Linked DNA regions of Homo sapiens: all the other regions are linked to region 2. The links come from fine-mapping of genetic effects on gene expression. A gene starts in region 2. Each other region holds a variant in brackets. All regions are shown on one strand. Distances are from middle to middle. Region 1 has its middle 23 kb from the start of HTR3A. Region 2 holds the start of HTR3B (5-hydroxytryptamine receptor 3B). Region 3 overlaps HTR3B (5-hydroxytryptamine receptor 3B).

Region 1 (5,683 bases), 48 kb before region 2:
TTTCCCACAGACCCCACTGGTGGCCCAAAAATCTATCTCCAGACAATACTCCAGGCAGCTTCTGCCAAACCATCAGGTTTGCATTCAGAGGAAATCCATGTCAGCTTTAAGTAACTGTGCTGTAATGGAACTTAAATGCATGTTTCTGACCTCCAAACCTGTATTCTTTTTACTGCACCACTTCTGTTGGATTAAAAGCTCCTTCAAGGCCAGAAACTCTGAGTGTCCTATTCAAGGTGCTATTCTGGCACCTGGCAAGGCCCCTGACACAGAGCTGATGCTCAAACTACTACTACCAAATGAGTGGGTGAGTGGATTAATGCATGAATGAATATGTCTTGCCCAGGTATTGCTTTCCTCAAATAACTTTTCCTGCATGCTTGCCACAATATCCAACATTTTCACCTCTTAAGCCAGTCCTTTGAGTTCTGCTGCCCATTTCTGCTAACCTACCCAGAAAACCAGAAGAAAAGGATACGTCCTGACTGGAATCTCAGAGGGGCTGTATTAACCTTGTCTTTTATTTTTTATATTCTGATGCTTTGACATCTGGGGCCTTGCTGACCCTGGCGAGACTGCCCCTTCCAGGGATAGCCAATTCCTAGAGATAGCAAACAACTCGCCTACAAGCAAACTTTTCAAATACAAACCAATCCAGTGCCCACATCCCCAGTAACCTTTTTTATCAGGTTCTCATACTCCAGGCCACTATCCACATGCCCTAATCATCTCAGAGCCGGATATCAGACAACTAGGGAGAGCTGCCATGCCCCAGAGTCCCCTGAAATGATTCACGCTAGCCCGTCCTAAGCCTGCTTACCCTGCCTTACCTGCTCTTTCCCGCAGAAACAATTAAGGCTCTTCCTCACAGCGCCTCCCCACCCCCTAACCCTGTAATCAACCTGGGTGTTTTCTGCTTGCATGCCCCACTTCCCACGGTGAAGTGTGGCTCATGCTCCCCTGTTGGGAACTAGGAATAATAAACTATCTTTTCCAGCAATTGTCTCCTGATCTGTTGGCCTTGCCAATACCTCAAATTTTGTATTAGTATGATATATTTTAAAGCAAGGGCAGAGCCAAAAAGGATCCCCTTCCATGAAGCCTGAAGTTTTATCTTTAATATGGAATCAACCTAAGTGTCCATCAATAGATGAATGCATAAAGAAAATGTGGTACATACACACAATGAAATATTATTCAGCTATAAAAAAGAATTAAATTGTCATTTGCAGCATGAATGGAACTGGAGGTCATTATGTTAAGTGAAATAAGCCAGGCACAGAAAGACAAGCATTGCATGTTCCCATTTATATGTGGGAGCTAAAAACAAAACAAAACAAAACAAAACAGTTGAACTCATGGAGATAGCAGAACGATGGTTACCAGAGGCTGGGAAAGGTAGTGGGGAGGGAGGGGGGGTAAAGAGGAAATAGTTAATGGGTACAAAATCCAGTTAGATAGAAGGAATGAGATCTAGTGACCAGTAGCACAATAGGACAACTATAGTCAACAATAATTTATTGTACATTTCAAAATAACCAAAGAGTGAGGCCGGGCGCAGTGGCTCATGCCTGTAATCCCAACGGTTTGGGAGGCTGAGGTGGGTGGATCACTGGATGTCAGGAGCTCGGGACCAGCTTGGCCAACGTGGCGAAACCCTGTCTCTACTAAAAAATACAAAAATTAGCTAGACCTGCTGGTGTGTACCCGTAATCCCAGCTACTCAGGAGGCTGAGGCAGGATAATCGCTGGAACCCAGGAGGCGGAGGTTGCAGTGAGCTGAGATCGTGCCACTGCACTCCAGCCTGGGTGACAGAGCGAGACTCTGTCTCAAAGCAAACAAATAAATAAAACCCAAAATAACTGGACAGTGGAGTTGGAATGTTCCTAACACAAAAAAATGATAAATTCTTGAGATGATGGATATTTCAGTTACCCTGATTTGAGCATTACACATTGTATACTTGTATCAAAATATCACATGTACCCTATAAATATGTACCCCTAATAATTAAAAATAAAATATTTTTAAAAATAAAGTTGTATCTTTAAGGTTTTATTCTAAATTTTTGTTTCTTCACCAAAATATATCAGTATGTATTTTCATAGGAAAGTAAATAATTCTCGTAACAATATACTGTTGAGTAAAACCAATGCTTTAGAAGGGAAATCATGTTCATTCTGGGGTTTTGAGTATAGCTAGCACACTGCTGAGCCATGCTAGGGATAATATACCCCAGGTTGAAAATGTGGCATGAACTCATTTCACCAGTTTGTATTTCAGAACAGATTAATTTTAAATGACTGTATTTAAAAGGCATTGGCACAGTGGAAGGATTTTTGGTCTCATTTGTGCACAGTGTCCGGGAAGGTAGATTTGGGAAGAACACAACAGTGAGATGTCCTTTGGGCAGTGTGCCGACATAGGTCCCTGGGTAGATACGCGTGGGAAAGAGGAAGGAATGAGAAGAAACTTCAGCTATTGCACAACTTGGCCAAAGCCAGCCCCGCGTGCAAAAGGGCAGGTGGTGGGAAGAGACCGCAGGAGAATGGGGCTGGGGTAGAGAAGGAGGCTTGTGGAAGGAAGAGCTGCAAGCCGAGACTGGGCAGGGATATGGGGAGAAAAAGAACTGCCAACAGCACCCGATTCCCTTGCTCTCAGCCTGGCGCTCTTCAAAGAGGATGAGCAGGGTGACCAGGAGCTGGCTGTCCACATGCAGCCCGGGTTACCAGTGACACTGAGGAGGGATGACCTTCCCGCTAGACTTACACACACCCCAGGCCTTCAAAGGCCAACACAGGCTGTGGGAGAGGTACAGAGGGTAAGGTAAAGGGGGAGCAAGGGGCTCCCTCTCACTCAGATCTGTAGTCTTGCCTGACACAGAGGCCGCCCACAGCCCAGCAGTTCCTTCCACCCCTGCAGAAAACCTTGATGCAATT[C/T]CTGCTTTATAGCCTCTGCCAAATGAAGCACAAACTTAATTACATCACCTCCCCGACAGGACGGGGAGCAGCGTGCTGGGCTTCTTCAGCCCCCTAATCTAATCACTGGCGTGGGTCATTTCAATTACGGACACCAGAGTGTGGGGGGAGCGTGGCTGCTCATAAAAGCCTCCATGCTGTTGCTCAGCTAATTATGAAGCTCTTACTGTCTCCGCAGGTAAATAAGTCAGGACTGAGCAGTTCCGGCTGCTGAGATGGAGTCTGATCGAGGGAACAGGACAAGGTAGGCTAAGCTCGACAGGGTGATGGCTGAGGTGGAGCCCAGGGTCACAGAGGGGGTTGCAAGGAAGGAAGCCCGGCCTTCCCGAAGGGCTCTCTGCCCTGAGGAGACAATCCACCATGCAAGAATTGATTGGTGGATTTTACCTTAAAACCCAAGCTCTGAAGTTTCCTAGAAGCCTCAGAGCCACAGGGCAGGATAAAATTCAGACTCCACCCACTTCTACTAACCTTGCCTTAACATGTGTCATTAGATCTCTGAGAAGGGAGAGCATCTGGGGAAGCCTTGAGGCTGAGCTGAGAGGAGGATGCATTCTAGCAACGGCACTTTCACTCTGGCTCCCCTCATGGCCACTCTCATTTGCTTCCCGGTTCTGGCTCATCCAGGCTGGGACGTCAGACCCCAGGAGACGTGCTGTGTCACAGTGGTTTAAAAGGTGAAAAACTCAGCTTCCTTTATCATGGCAGCTACTGCTCCTCTAGGACAACTGCAAAAGGTGTGGCGGGTATCTTGGGAGGAAAAGGAGACCCTCTGCCACCTGATTATTGGCAATACTCAAGGCTGCAGAGGCTCGGGGAGGTCATCAGAGCAGCACTCAGAAGTCGTCTTGTAATATAATTGAGGCCAGGCGTGGTGGCTCACACCTGTAATCCCAGCACTTTGGGAGGCTGAGGTGGGAGGATCACCTGAGGTCAGAAGTTCGAGACCAGCCTGGCCAACATGGTGAAACCCTGTCTCTACTAAAAATACAAAAATTAGCCAAGTGTGGTGGCGCATGCCTGTAGTCCCAACTACTCAGGAGGCTGAGACACAAGAATCGCTTGAACCCAGGAGGTGGAGACTGCAGTGAGCCAAGATCGCACCACCGCACTCCAGCCTGGGCGACAGAGTGAGACTCTGTCTCAAAAAAAAGAAAAAAAAAAAAGAAATATAATTAAGAGAGCCAAGTACAAAGGGGGAAGATCCCTGGAGAACCCCTGACCAGCCCGCATGCTGGAAGAGCAGGGTAGAGCCATGGAAAGTTCGTGCCCTCTGCGGGGAGGAGAAGCCTGGCCTCTCTCTCCTGTTCTGGGATGTGGTAACTAGGAATTCAATTTGTGAGGTGGGAAAACTGGCTAGCAGACTCTCGCTTTGCTGAGAGTCCCTATTTCCATTTTTTTTTTTTTTTTTTTTTTTTTTTTGCCCAGTAAATTCCATTTTCAAAGTGTCTGCAAGCCTAATTTTTCATGGCTGTATGACAAGGACTCTGTTTTTAGCTGTACTAAGGAGAAAGTTCTACAACATGATGAACTGGGGCTGCCTGGCTGGCCTGGGAGTTAACTAAGTCTTTGTTCTAGACATCAGTGAAGTCCCCAGAACTGGAGCTGTGATTTCTTGGTGAGTGCTGAAACCACCTTGGATTCTGCGAAAGAGCAGATGGTAGGAGTGCTCACAGCTGGGAGAATCCCATTTTTGCTCTGTTCCTCAGTTTCCTTTCTCTATGAAACAGGAATCATGAAATGTATGAACATTTGGAGGGGCTGAGCTAAAGCTGCTCTGCAAATAAGGGCTGCTGGCACCCCATATTCCTCCCACCACAGAGGGACACTATTCCAGGAGGAGATCTGTAGTGCCATTTGTTCATGATGTTGTCGAAGAAAAGAGTCAAACTCTGTAAAATATTGGAAGAGATTTATTCTGAGCCAAATATGTGTGACCACGGCCAGTGACACAGCCCCCAGGAGACCCTGAGAACATGTGCCCAAGGTGGTCAGGGCACAGCTTGGTTTTGTACGTTTTAGGGAGACATGAGACATCAATCAAATACATTTAAGATACATATTGATTCCGTCCAGAAAGGGGGGACAACTTAAAGCCAGTGGGGCAAGGGGTTTCAGATCCTAAGTAGATTTAAAATTTTTGTGATTGGCTATTGTTTAAAAGAGTTATTGTCAATAGAAAGGAATGTCTGGATTATGGTAAGTGGTTGTGGAGACCAAAGTTTTATCATGCAGATGAAGCTTCCAGGCAGCAGGCTTCAGAGAGAGTAGATTGTAAATGTTTCTTTTCTTTTTTTTTTTTTTTGAGACAGAGTCTCACTCTGTTGCCCAGGCTGGAGTGCAGTGGTGCGATCTCAGGTCACCGCAACCTCTACCTCCCAGGTTCAAGCAATTCTTCTGCCTCAGCCTTCCAAGTAGCTGGGATTACAGGCATGTGCCGCCATGCCCAGCTAATTTTTGTATTTTTAGTAGAGATGGGGTTTCATTATGTTGGCCAGGCTGGTCTTGAATTCCTGACCTCAAGTGATCCACCCGCCTCGGCCTCCCAAAGTGCTGGGATTACAGACATGAGCCACTGCGCCCAGCCAGATTGTAAATGTTTCTTATCAGACTTAAGATCTGTATTGATGTTAATGCTGGTGCTGGTCAACTTTTCCTGAATTCCGAAAGAGAGGAGGGCATCATGAGGCATTTCCGACCCCCG
Region 2 (5,656 bases):
ATTCCTGCAGATGAGGGACTATTGGCATAGTGAGCTTAGCACTGCCCAAGGTCATGAAGCTTGCAAGTGAAGGGAGTGATATTTACACACAGCTGGTCTGGATTCGAAGTCCAAGCTCTTAATCATGACGCTACATGATTAAGTGTAACCTGGCTCCCTGAGAATATCAGGAACAACAGCAAGTAACCTTTCAAAAAGAAGACTGACATGTTGTATGGAGTATATTATTGGACAGAAATAGCCAGTGGTATTTTCTGCATGTGTTTTCAGGTTAATAATATCTTACATTTGCATTTCACCTTACAATTTAACAATGCTGTCTTATCTGATTGTCATGAATATCCAAAATAAAGTTAGCTTACAGGAAAACTGAGTCTCTAAGAGATTAATTGACTTCCCAGGGTTACGTGGCTGGTGAGTGGTGAAGCAGGAATTAGCTGGCTCTCCTTGTTCAGGCCTCCTTCTATACCAGCACACTGCCCCCTGGGATTGGTTCCGTGCTCTTACACTTAACAAATCATCTTGATTTGTAAATATAGTAAAATACGTAAAGTAAACATAGTAAAACCCAGTACAATTCCACAGGGCAGGTCTTTCTGCAACAAGTATCCACGGAATGATTTATGGTAAAGCACTGGTTATCAGACACTATTAAAACACTTCTTTCTGCTACATTTAGAACAAAAATCATGCATAATACAAAACATTAGAGAGATATTGTTAAGAACTTAGTCTGTTTTCTTACCTTCATTTTTCTATTTTATCTTAGTTTAATGTTCACGATTATTTTCTACTAAGAAACCCATTTGGCATTTAATGACACTTCCTCTGTTTTTATTTTTTACAATTAAGATATGCTTTTATCCTTTATGTTCAACATCCAGGATTTTTATACTTTAATGATAAGTGGCTATTTTTCTTCTCTACCCAATAAAAAAATCATTTCCAGCTTCCTGGCTACCAAATTTCTAACTCATCTCTATAATTGACTCATTCCACTTCCAGTTACATCCTAAAACTTGAGAATTCAGATATGAGCTCTAGGAGAAACCTCAAGAAAGTGGGGTGTTGAGAACACCAGCATAATCATAAATTCTTGATTTGTGCGCATGTACTAAGAATCAATTGTATCCTAACTAAAATGATTCAATTCAGTAGAGTTAATACTGGTGCCATGGAAATATAGTTCTAGAAATTTAGAAAAAAAAGTATTAACTTCTAAATTACTTTTAAGAGGAATTGTAGACTCAAAACTTACCAGTTTATAGTACCTGTCTTTAGAGATATACTCATCACCTATATAGATTTTGTAAGGCGAGATGTTAAGGCCTCTAATACCAAAATGATATACATATATCTGTAGCCATGACAAATCTAGTGGACTTTTTCTCTGGGCTGCTAACAGCTGATAATGAAGCCAAGACTATTTTGGATAATAAAAACATATTATCCACACATAAAAGCAAATTTGAAAAAGAATGCCCCAAACTCTCAATCAACCTGCAGAGAGCTTGATTTCTAGAGAAGCAGAGATTTATCAAGCAATTATAACATTTCAGAGCATATTTTCAGCTATGTGTAAAAAGCCCCACAGTCTGATGCTATATGTATACGTATTTGCAATCATAGGAGCCAAGTCACAAACAAATCATTGTTTTCCATATAGCTTCACAGGACTGGCATTTTACAGACGATGAATAAAAACAAACATGCCTGAGAAGTCCTACAGTACGGTGTATACAAATATTGTCTCTATCTTCTAAGAGTTAATCCTTAATGCCTAGTAAAATTATTAAAAGGACTCACCTGCAGCCACCAGGATGCAGGCCCACAGGGGAGCCATTACACTTGACAACATTCCTGGGCAGATCCCAAAAAGGAGAAATGCAAACTTGCCTACCAGATGGAATGCCGCTCAATTTCTCCTAACAGGGTTCCTCTCCACTCTGTTCTCCTCCTTCTCCGTTTGCCAGTTGATGCTATCCTTACTGGTGCTATTTTGTAAACACTCAGTGGGACCAAAGGCAATACCAGCACCATGCAAATGTTTTGGAATTGATGCCGTCATGAAATCCCTTAACTTCTCCCTTTGGTTCTGCCCCAAGATCAGACCGTGGCCAACATTTCCATTTTCCTGACAGGAGATAGCTAAGTGAATAATGTAATCTAAGAGGAGCCCCTAAGGAGAGGAAATTCCACACTAATATGATTTCCTTTACAGCCTTTACCTAAGGCAGTACTCTTGCTGACATTCAGGACACTAATTTCATTAATAATTGAAATCCAAATAGCTGTTCTAAATCAGACTTATGCAGTAACATCTTCAGCATTTGACAGTGGTTCTTGGGCTCTTGAATTACACAAGGCTAATGGAAACCTGGTATTGTCTAATGAAGAACAACTGCAAACAATGCAATGGAAAAGTGCTTTTTGTTTTTCCTAAGCCCTTTTAATTAAAAGAAACATTGACTTTTGATAAATAGGAGGGCTTCTCAAATTTTCACTGCTCACAATTCAGAAAGTAACCTTCTAGAAAGGATGCTTCTAGGCTTATTGAAGATGAAAACAAAGTTCAACATCATTTAATAAAAGTTTTTTTTTCACTTTTTGATTGAATACGCATTCATTTTTCATTACTAAGGAACATGATGCATAATTCTATACAATAACACTATTTTCCATTTCTAGACACCCCCAGATGCTCTAGAAAGAAAAAACAAATACCATTTCCAACATCTGCCTGCTTTTTTATTAAAAATGAGATTATAGAGGCAAATTTTGATATAAATTTTCACAGAGCCAACCGAAGGGGGGAAAGTATATATTTGATTCCTATTCTCCTAATCACTCAGTCCCTTTGTTTAGAATCCATGAAGTTCTACACCTAATTTTCATCTACCAATAAAATGTAGCCTAATTGCTTTCTTACTGTTGGTGAAGGGAGTGGTATACACAGAAAGAGAGAAAACTAAGATAACCATTTGGTGTTGACTTGGTTTTGGAGGTATCAGTGTGAACCCATGGTTTTCAGTACATTTGCTAAATATATAAATAATTGCAAATAAGCTGGGCGTGGTGGCTCAAGCCTGTAATCCCAGCACTTTGGGAGGCCGAGGCCAGTGGATCACTTGAGGTTAGGAGTTTGAGACCAGCCTGACCAACATGGTGAGCCCCATCTCTACTGAAACTACAAAAATTAGTCAGGCGTGGTGGCACATGCCTGTAATCCCAGCTACTCGGGAGGCTGAGGCAGGGGAATTGTTTGAATCAGGAGGTGGAGGTTGCCATGAACCAAGATCGCGCCACTGCACTCCAGCCTGGGAGACAGAGGGAGACTCCGCCTCAAAAAAAAAAAAAAAAAAAGAAAAGAAAAGAAATAAATACAAATGTAATGTGTGTTTGCACATGTTCATACATGCATATATTCCCTAGCTCTGTCCACTTAGCAGCCTAGGAGAATGACACCCCAATAGTAACAAGCACACCTAGCTTCCATAGCTCTTCCGGTATAGTCTTGCCAAAAATTCATAACTTGAATCTATTCAGGAGGAAACACCAGATGAGACAGTGGCATACTGTGGGACAAACAAAACAGCAGGCATCTTCAAAAGTGCCAAGGTGGGCCAGGTGCAATGGCTCATACCTGTAATCCCAGTACTTTGGGAGGTTGAAGTAAGAGGACTGCTTGAGCCCAGGAATTTGAGACCAGCCTAAGCTACATAAGGATACCCTGTCTCCACACAAAAAAATAAAAGATTAGTTTAATGTGGTGGTGCACTCCTGTAGTCCCAGCTACTTGGGAGGCTGAGGCAGGAGGATCACTTGAGCTCAGGAGATAGAGTCTGCAGTGAGCTGTGATTGTGCCACTGCACTCCAGCCTGGGCAATAGAGGTAGACCCTGTCTCAAAAACAAAAACACACACACACAAAAGTGCCAAGGTTATAAAAGTTAAGGAAAGACTGAGGAACCTATCAGACTAAAGAGACACAAGCACAATATCTGATTCTGAATTGGATCCTTTTGTTATAAAGAACATTTTGGGAAGAATTGAAACTCGAATGAGGTATGTGGATTAGATGGTAGTAATGTGGCAATGTAGTAATGTTGGTTTCCTGATTTTAATTGTATAGAGATTATGCAAAAGAATGTCCTTGTTTGTAAGACCAGCACACTAAGTATTCAAGAATGAGGGAAGATCGCACACAGTGGCTCACGCCTGTAATCCCAGCACTTTAGGAGACCTAGGTGGGTAGATCACCTGAGATCAGGAGTTCAAGGCCAGCCTGGCCAACATGGTGAAACCCTGTCTCTACTAAAAATACAAAAATTAGCCCGGCACGGTGGCACATGCCTGTAATTCCAGCTACTCAGGAGGCTGAGGCATGAGAATCTTGTGAACCCAGAAGGCAGAGGTTGCACTGAGCCGAGATCACACCACTGCACTTCAGCCTGGGCGACAGAATGAGACTCTGTCTCAGAAAAGAAAAAAAAAACAAAAAACAAAAACAGGGCACATCATGTTGATCATGTCGCTAACTTATTCTCAAATGATTGTGGGGGTCTAGGGGAATTCTTTGTACTATCCATCCAATTCTGCTATACATTTGAAAATATTTCAGAAGAAAGAGTAATTTAAATGTAACTTGGTGGAGGAACTTTGGTACACAGTTATGGAAAGTTTATCTGAGAAATACTCTTTAGAGAGGGTGGGCAGATAAATGGGGCTTCATCAAGAGGGAAGATCATAGAGGACTGATCTGGCCCTCAAAGTCTCAGCTCTTCCTATCAGTTCTTTGAATTGTCAGCTTCTACTTATGGGATGAATTAGGACAAGAGAAAGGCAAGCTACAGGCAATATAGCTATGTAGGTAGCAGTTTTTATGGGAAAGCAATGCAGAAGCATCCCTTTATGCAAAGGTTTAATTGAGGCGATGATCGACATTGCATTCTTGCCATGCATTGTAGTAAGCTATGACTCTAAGTCAAACCTTCTGGGGACGTGCTTCCCTCCCTTTTCTTTGCACTTTCTGATATGCCCATCTGTTACTGGAAGGCCATTACTAATGATGTGTAATACAGGTACATTACAACTTTCATTAGCTAACTTAACAACAGTCTAGTAATCCTGCCCATTATGGCTCTTTATTGGCTGATGAATTCTGTCAAGATGGCAATGATTTTGTATGAGTGACTTGTCTTCAAAGTAGTTTATATACAATGCTTCCTGATCTTTCCTTGACAGCCTTGCTCTGTACTGTCAGCTGGCTTAGATCTTTCTTTTTCTAATCTTAGTGTCCTGTCTGGACTTTGTTTACTCAGTACTTTTAGCTTTTTTTTTTTTTTTCCCTAAGAGGCAGAGTTTCACTCTGTCGCCCAGGCTGGAATGCAGTGGTGTGATCATGGCTCACTGTAGCCTCCATCTCCCAGCCTCAAGCAATCCTCCCATCCCAGCCTCCCATAGCTGGGAGTATATGTGTGTGCCACCACACCTGGCTAATTTCTTCTCTTTTTAGTAGAGATGAGGTGTTGGTATGTTGCCCAGGCTGGTCTTGATCTCCTGAGCTCAAGTGATCCTTCCGCCTTGGCCTCCCCAGTAGCTAGGAATATAGGCATGCACCACTACACCCAGCTCATACTCAGTTCTTTTAGGTTTGG
Region 3 (5,000 bases), 33 kb before region 2:
GGATGGTGTGGCCCCTCAAGGTCCCTGATTTCCAAGAAAGTACAGGTTTATCAGACCACGTGTTCCCCGAGAAATCATCTGAGGGAGAGCTGTGGCAAGAGCTAAGAGGTTAGGAGGTAGGCAGGCTTTGTGGATATGAACCTATGTAGTCACACAGAGCCTGCTCTTGAAAGGGCCCTGCACTTGGTTTAGTGCTCCACTGGTGCTATTTTGAAATTCTTAAAAATGTTTGAATAAGGGGTCCTGCATTTTCATTTTTCACTAACCCTGCATATTATTAGCTGACCCTGTCAGAAGGATAGTCCTCACTGGATGTCAACAGTAAATGAAGGCAGAGGGAAAAGACATAGGGACAAGGGTGGACAATTAGCTTCTGCTGTAACATAAAGCAAAGCCGTCTCTTGTCTTTGTTTGGCTTATAGAATCGCAAAACTAGATAGGCCTTCCAAAACCACCTCATCCATTCTCTTACCTTTAGGAAGGATGTTCGCATTTCTAAGACACACAAAATAGTACCTATAGTTTTGGGTTTTGGTTTTCTTCCAGAAGAAAGAATCCACCTTTTTCTTGTGGTTATTTAAGGGCAATGTTGCCTATGGACTAGTTTTTTTTTTTTAGACACAATTTCGCTCTTATTGCCCAGACTGGAGTACAATGACGCAATCTCGACTCACTGCAACCTCCGCCTCACAGGTTCAAGCGATTCTCCTGCCTCAGCCTCCTGCGTAGCTGGGATTACAGGCACCTGCCACCACGCCCAGCTAATTTTTGCATTTTTAGGGTTTTGCCATGTTGGCCAGGTTGGTCTCGAACTCCTGACTTCAGGTGATCCACCTGCCTCAGCCTCCCAAAGTCGTTAGCCACAGTGCCAGGCCTAGACTAATTTTCCCTGCAAACCCAGTGCAGCCTAAATAAACTCTAATTTCATCATATAGTTTTCAGAAATTTTTTGTTTTTATTATCTCATTGGATAATCAGAGCCCTTTATTCCTTTGTTCAATAAACATTAATTGAGCATGAACAGGTTGTCTGGTACTATCCTAAATACTGAAGTTAGTACTATTAATAAGACAGTTCCCTGCCCTTATCCCATCTTGTAGGATCAGGCAGCAGATTCTGGTGATTGAGTGTTTCATGAGTCAGTTGCAGGAGAGAAATTTTGCCCCAGAATGGACCATAATCAAGGTCATTACCTGCTTTAGATCATTTAAACAATGAGATTTGGGACTTTTCGAGTTTATATTTAGATGATATTTTGGACTTAAGAGTTGACACTGGAATGATGCTGGGTTAAACTTTGGGGGATGTTGGGATGCGGCTGAATGAATTTGCACATGGAGCAGAAGTGAATTTTGGGTTGCAGACTCTACTAGGTTGAAGAGGGCCCCCAAGAATTCATGTATTTCCTGGAACCTCAGAATGTGACCTTATTTGGAAATGATATCATTGAAGATGTACTAGAGTAGGATGAGGTCATACTGGAGTAGAGTGGGCCCTTAATCCAATGTGACTGGAGTTCTGATAAGAAGAGAAGAGACACACAAGGAGAAGGCCATGTGAAGATGGAGGCAGAGACGGGAGCAACGCATCTACCAGCCAAGGAACACCACAGGTTCCTGGCAGCAACCAGAGGCAGAGGAGAGGCAAGGAGCAGATTCTCCCTCAGAATGCCCAGAAGGAACCAACCCTGCCCAAGTCTTGATTTCAGATTTACAGCCTACATAACTGCAAGAAAATGAATTTCTGTTGTTTTGAGCCACCCAGTTTGGGCTACTTTGTTATGGCAGCCTTGTGACACTAATACACGCGACCTGCCAAGTAATGCCCAGTGGGCAAATGGCAAAGAATGGACCAGAATATACTGCACTGCCTTTAGTTGTGTGTCAGCATGATATGGAATTAGGCACATAGTTTCTGGAGTCAAGTTGCCTGGGTTCAAGTCCAGGCTCCACCAGTCACCTTGCAGCCTCCTGTAAGTTACTTAACTTCTCTGCACCTCAATTCATTTATTTGTAAAAATGCAGATACTTGGATCACTCATCTCCTAGGGATGTGAGGATTATAGGTACAAACTTTAAAATGGTGCTTGGCATAGGCTAAGTGCTCAGCTTTGTGGTTATTGCTATTATGTCTCCCTGGGCAGATTTTGGGGATCTGTGATAGATGTCAGGAGCCTTCATTTATTCATCTTTATGTCCTAAGTGTTCACCATGGAGCCTGGCACATGGTAAGAACTCAAAAGATGTTTATTGAATTGTACTGGAGTCTGGTAGTAGCACTACTTTTAGTTCCAATATAATGGAAGTGTGGAGTTAGCCTGAATGGAGGCTATCCTCTTGAGGTCAGTCTTTCTGAGGGCGACCTCTCTGCAGATCATGCAAGAAGCAGTGACTCCTGCTTCTGCTGAGTAGAAGGCATGTCACCTGCTCAGTGAGACACTGCTCTCTGCAAAACTGCCCCTACCTACAGCTCATCATTTCTAATGGACTAAAGGAGCTGGTGCCTTTAAATTCCACAGAAAGGGAAGAAAAAGCACTTTAGTTTCAGTCCATGTTCCCCATTAGACACCCTTCAGGTGTTAGCAATATTATGCCACAATTTCATTATCCATTAAAGCCAGGTAATAATAAGTACACAAAGGTATTTGGAGCCTATTGATGTTAATGAAAGAGATCAATCTAATTCCGAATGTGTGTGTGGAGAGCTCCTTGGAGATGGAATAGGC[C/T]CCAAGGTTAGCCTGTAATTGCCTCCTTGATGGTAGACCCCACCAGTACTCAGTTTTGCATGACCGTCTTTATGACACAGTTGGAATTTTGACGCCTAGACTCCGCTTCATACAGAAGAACCCATTTGCCTCCTCTCCAAAGCCCCTCCCAGCATTCCCAACTCAGAAAGAACAGGAAAGTTGCTGCCATTTAAGCACCGGAGTCAGAGTTACTTGGATCTAGACTATGGGTCGCTCTGGATTAGCAGAAAGTCAGTCTGTGATTCCCACATCACTTGAGTGACCCAGAAAGGATATCCAGGGCTCTAAATTCTCTCTCTCTTTCTCTCTCTCTCTCTCATATGATCTGCTAGCACTTAGAGGGATCTTGATTTTCTATCAAGTTTATAAGCTGCATTCAATAAGTATCTCAACAAAGTTACTCTACCTAATCTAGAAAAAAAATTATAACAGAAAAAGAGGATAAATGAAGCACCTTTCTTTCCCAAATGCCCGCTTTGCATTTTCTAGGACACCCTGTGCGCACCCCAATTCCTGCCCGAATAAACACTTTACTTGGTGTGAGGATATCTGTGGTTGGGCTCGGTTTAGTTTCCACAGCTGTCCACCCTTTTCCATCCAACACGAGTTCCTAAATTGTATTCCTACCTCCTCCCACTTCTACCCTCATTCTTTAAAGAAAAAAAAGAAAAAAACCACTGCCATGCAAAATCAAATGCTCTCACCCTGCTGTTTCTGGGAACCAGCACCTCCAATAATATATTGGAGGAAACCTCCCCTCCCATGGCTGCTGGGCCGGGTCCCAGGCTGTACACAGACATCTTTGTAGGGAGAAGTGCCTATGCTCTGGGCCCCCTGTGGAATGTAGCCTGACTCCAAAGTATCCGTGGTGTCCTCTGATAAACAATTTGTGTCCCAGAGTCGGCAGCTATGATTGCACATTAGCTGAAACTCATGGGGCATCCGGAGCACTTGATTTAGTATAAATGGCAGCAGTGTACCTCAGGCCAAGGGCAAGGATGAATTTAGAATAGATTATTGCTTCTCCTGACTTCCCTACCCGTCCCCAACCTCCCGCTGGGCAGCCTGGACTGAGACACAGCCGGCGAGTAGATTAAGAGGAGATGGTCCTTTGCTGTCAGGACCCTGGCAGGCCCAGTGTTGGCATAATAGAATCAGGCTCTGAATTTCACATCACTGGCCAAGGGCTGTTGAAGGAAAGCCAGGTGCCTTGGTTGCTAAATTCAGAGTGGGATGTCTGGTATGGAGTAAGAGAATGAGCCTAGGCTCTGTGCACAGAGCAGAAATGCATGGAGGCTGAGCGAGGTTGGGAGGCAGAAAACTGTGATCGTCACTGAATCCACTTTTAGTCTTTCTAAAGCTGCAGAATTGCTCCTGAGTCTGGCCTCCTGTCCCACCAAATATGATCTGTGACTCTACTCAGGATTCTCTCCCTACTCTGCTCCTGAGGACCAGGGCAGAGGCCAGCCCTGCTAGATAACCCACGTCCACCCCCGGGGCAAAAGGACCCATGGAAAAGTTCCAAGAGCATGAAATCAAATTGCACCTGCCTCCAGCACACTTCCACTTCAAAACGTACCCGGGGGGAAGCATGGCAGTGAGGAGAGCAGAGGAACTGGACCATGGCTCTGAGATCCAGGGAAGCCTCCCCTCCATTAGACAATCTTCTGTCTCTGTTCATCATAATTAAAATGGAGATGGTATATAGAAAACCTTCAGCTGCTGTTGACGAATTAACATTTAGGGTGAAGGAAAGTGACATGTAACTACAAATAATAGCTGCTCTATGGAGAGAGAGAGAGTGTGTGTGTGTGTGTGTGTGCACATGTGTGCCTGTGTATGCAAGCACACGCCCTTGTTTACCTGCCCCATCTCTTTCCTGTGTTTGTCTCCTCCGTGCAGTGTAGGTAATGGTGTGTGCAGTGTTCTCAGGAGCACTTGGTAGGTGACTATGTTCCACCTTGCATGTGCTACTCCTTCACATTTCCCTTTAATGCTCTCCATTATTCGGGCTGCATTAATAATGTTTGTGGGCTGATATCTTTAAAATTAATGAGGTGTTTACTCCTAGCCAAGAAACTCATTGAAATTTAAAAAAAAAAAAAGCTTGCTTGCTTTCCTTCCCTTTTCCTTACAAGAAAAGTGGACAAACAGGCCACAATGCAAGCTTTGCTTAAAACCAAGCAGGATTCTAGGCAAGAGCCCAAAGCCCACCATCAGGAGGGTATGAGTTGCGATTATACTAGCCAGCATT

The links. PIP is the estimated chance that this variant, and not a neighbour inherited with it, causes the effect.
Region 1: its variant is the best candidate, but not a certain one, in a credible set for the expression of HTR3B in whole blood (TOPMed, PIP 0.67).
Region 3: its variant is the best candidate, but not a certain one, in a credible set for the expression of HTR3B in whole blood (TOPMed, PIP 0.73).

Annotation. Positions count from the first base shown.
Region 1 is chr11:113,949,596-113,955,278 of GRCh38, reverse strand. No RefSeq gene overlaps it. Among named protein-coding and RNA genes, the nearest start is that of HTR3A, 23 kb to the left of the region's middle. RefSeq lists an enhancer at 2,761-3,314. The variant C/T (reference allele first, on the strand shown) is at 2,941.
Region 2 is chr11:113,901,136-113,906,791 of GRCh38, reverse strand. It overlaps HTR3B (5-hydroxytryptamine receptor 3B), which reads right to left and starts at 1,996. Exons shown (of 9, transcript NM_006028.5): 1 at 1,807-1,996. The coding sequence starts at 1,858.
Region 3 is chr11:113,934,611-113,939,610 of GRCh38, reverse strand. The region is part of intron 6 of HTR3B (5-hydroxytryptamine receptor 3B); the gene reads right to left. Among named protein-coding and RNA genes, the nearest start is that of HTR3B, 32 kb to the right of the region's middle. The variant C/T (reference allele first, on the strand shown) is at 2,726.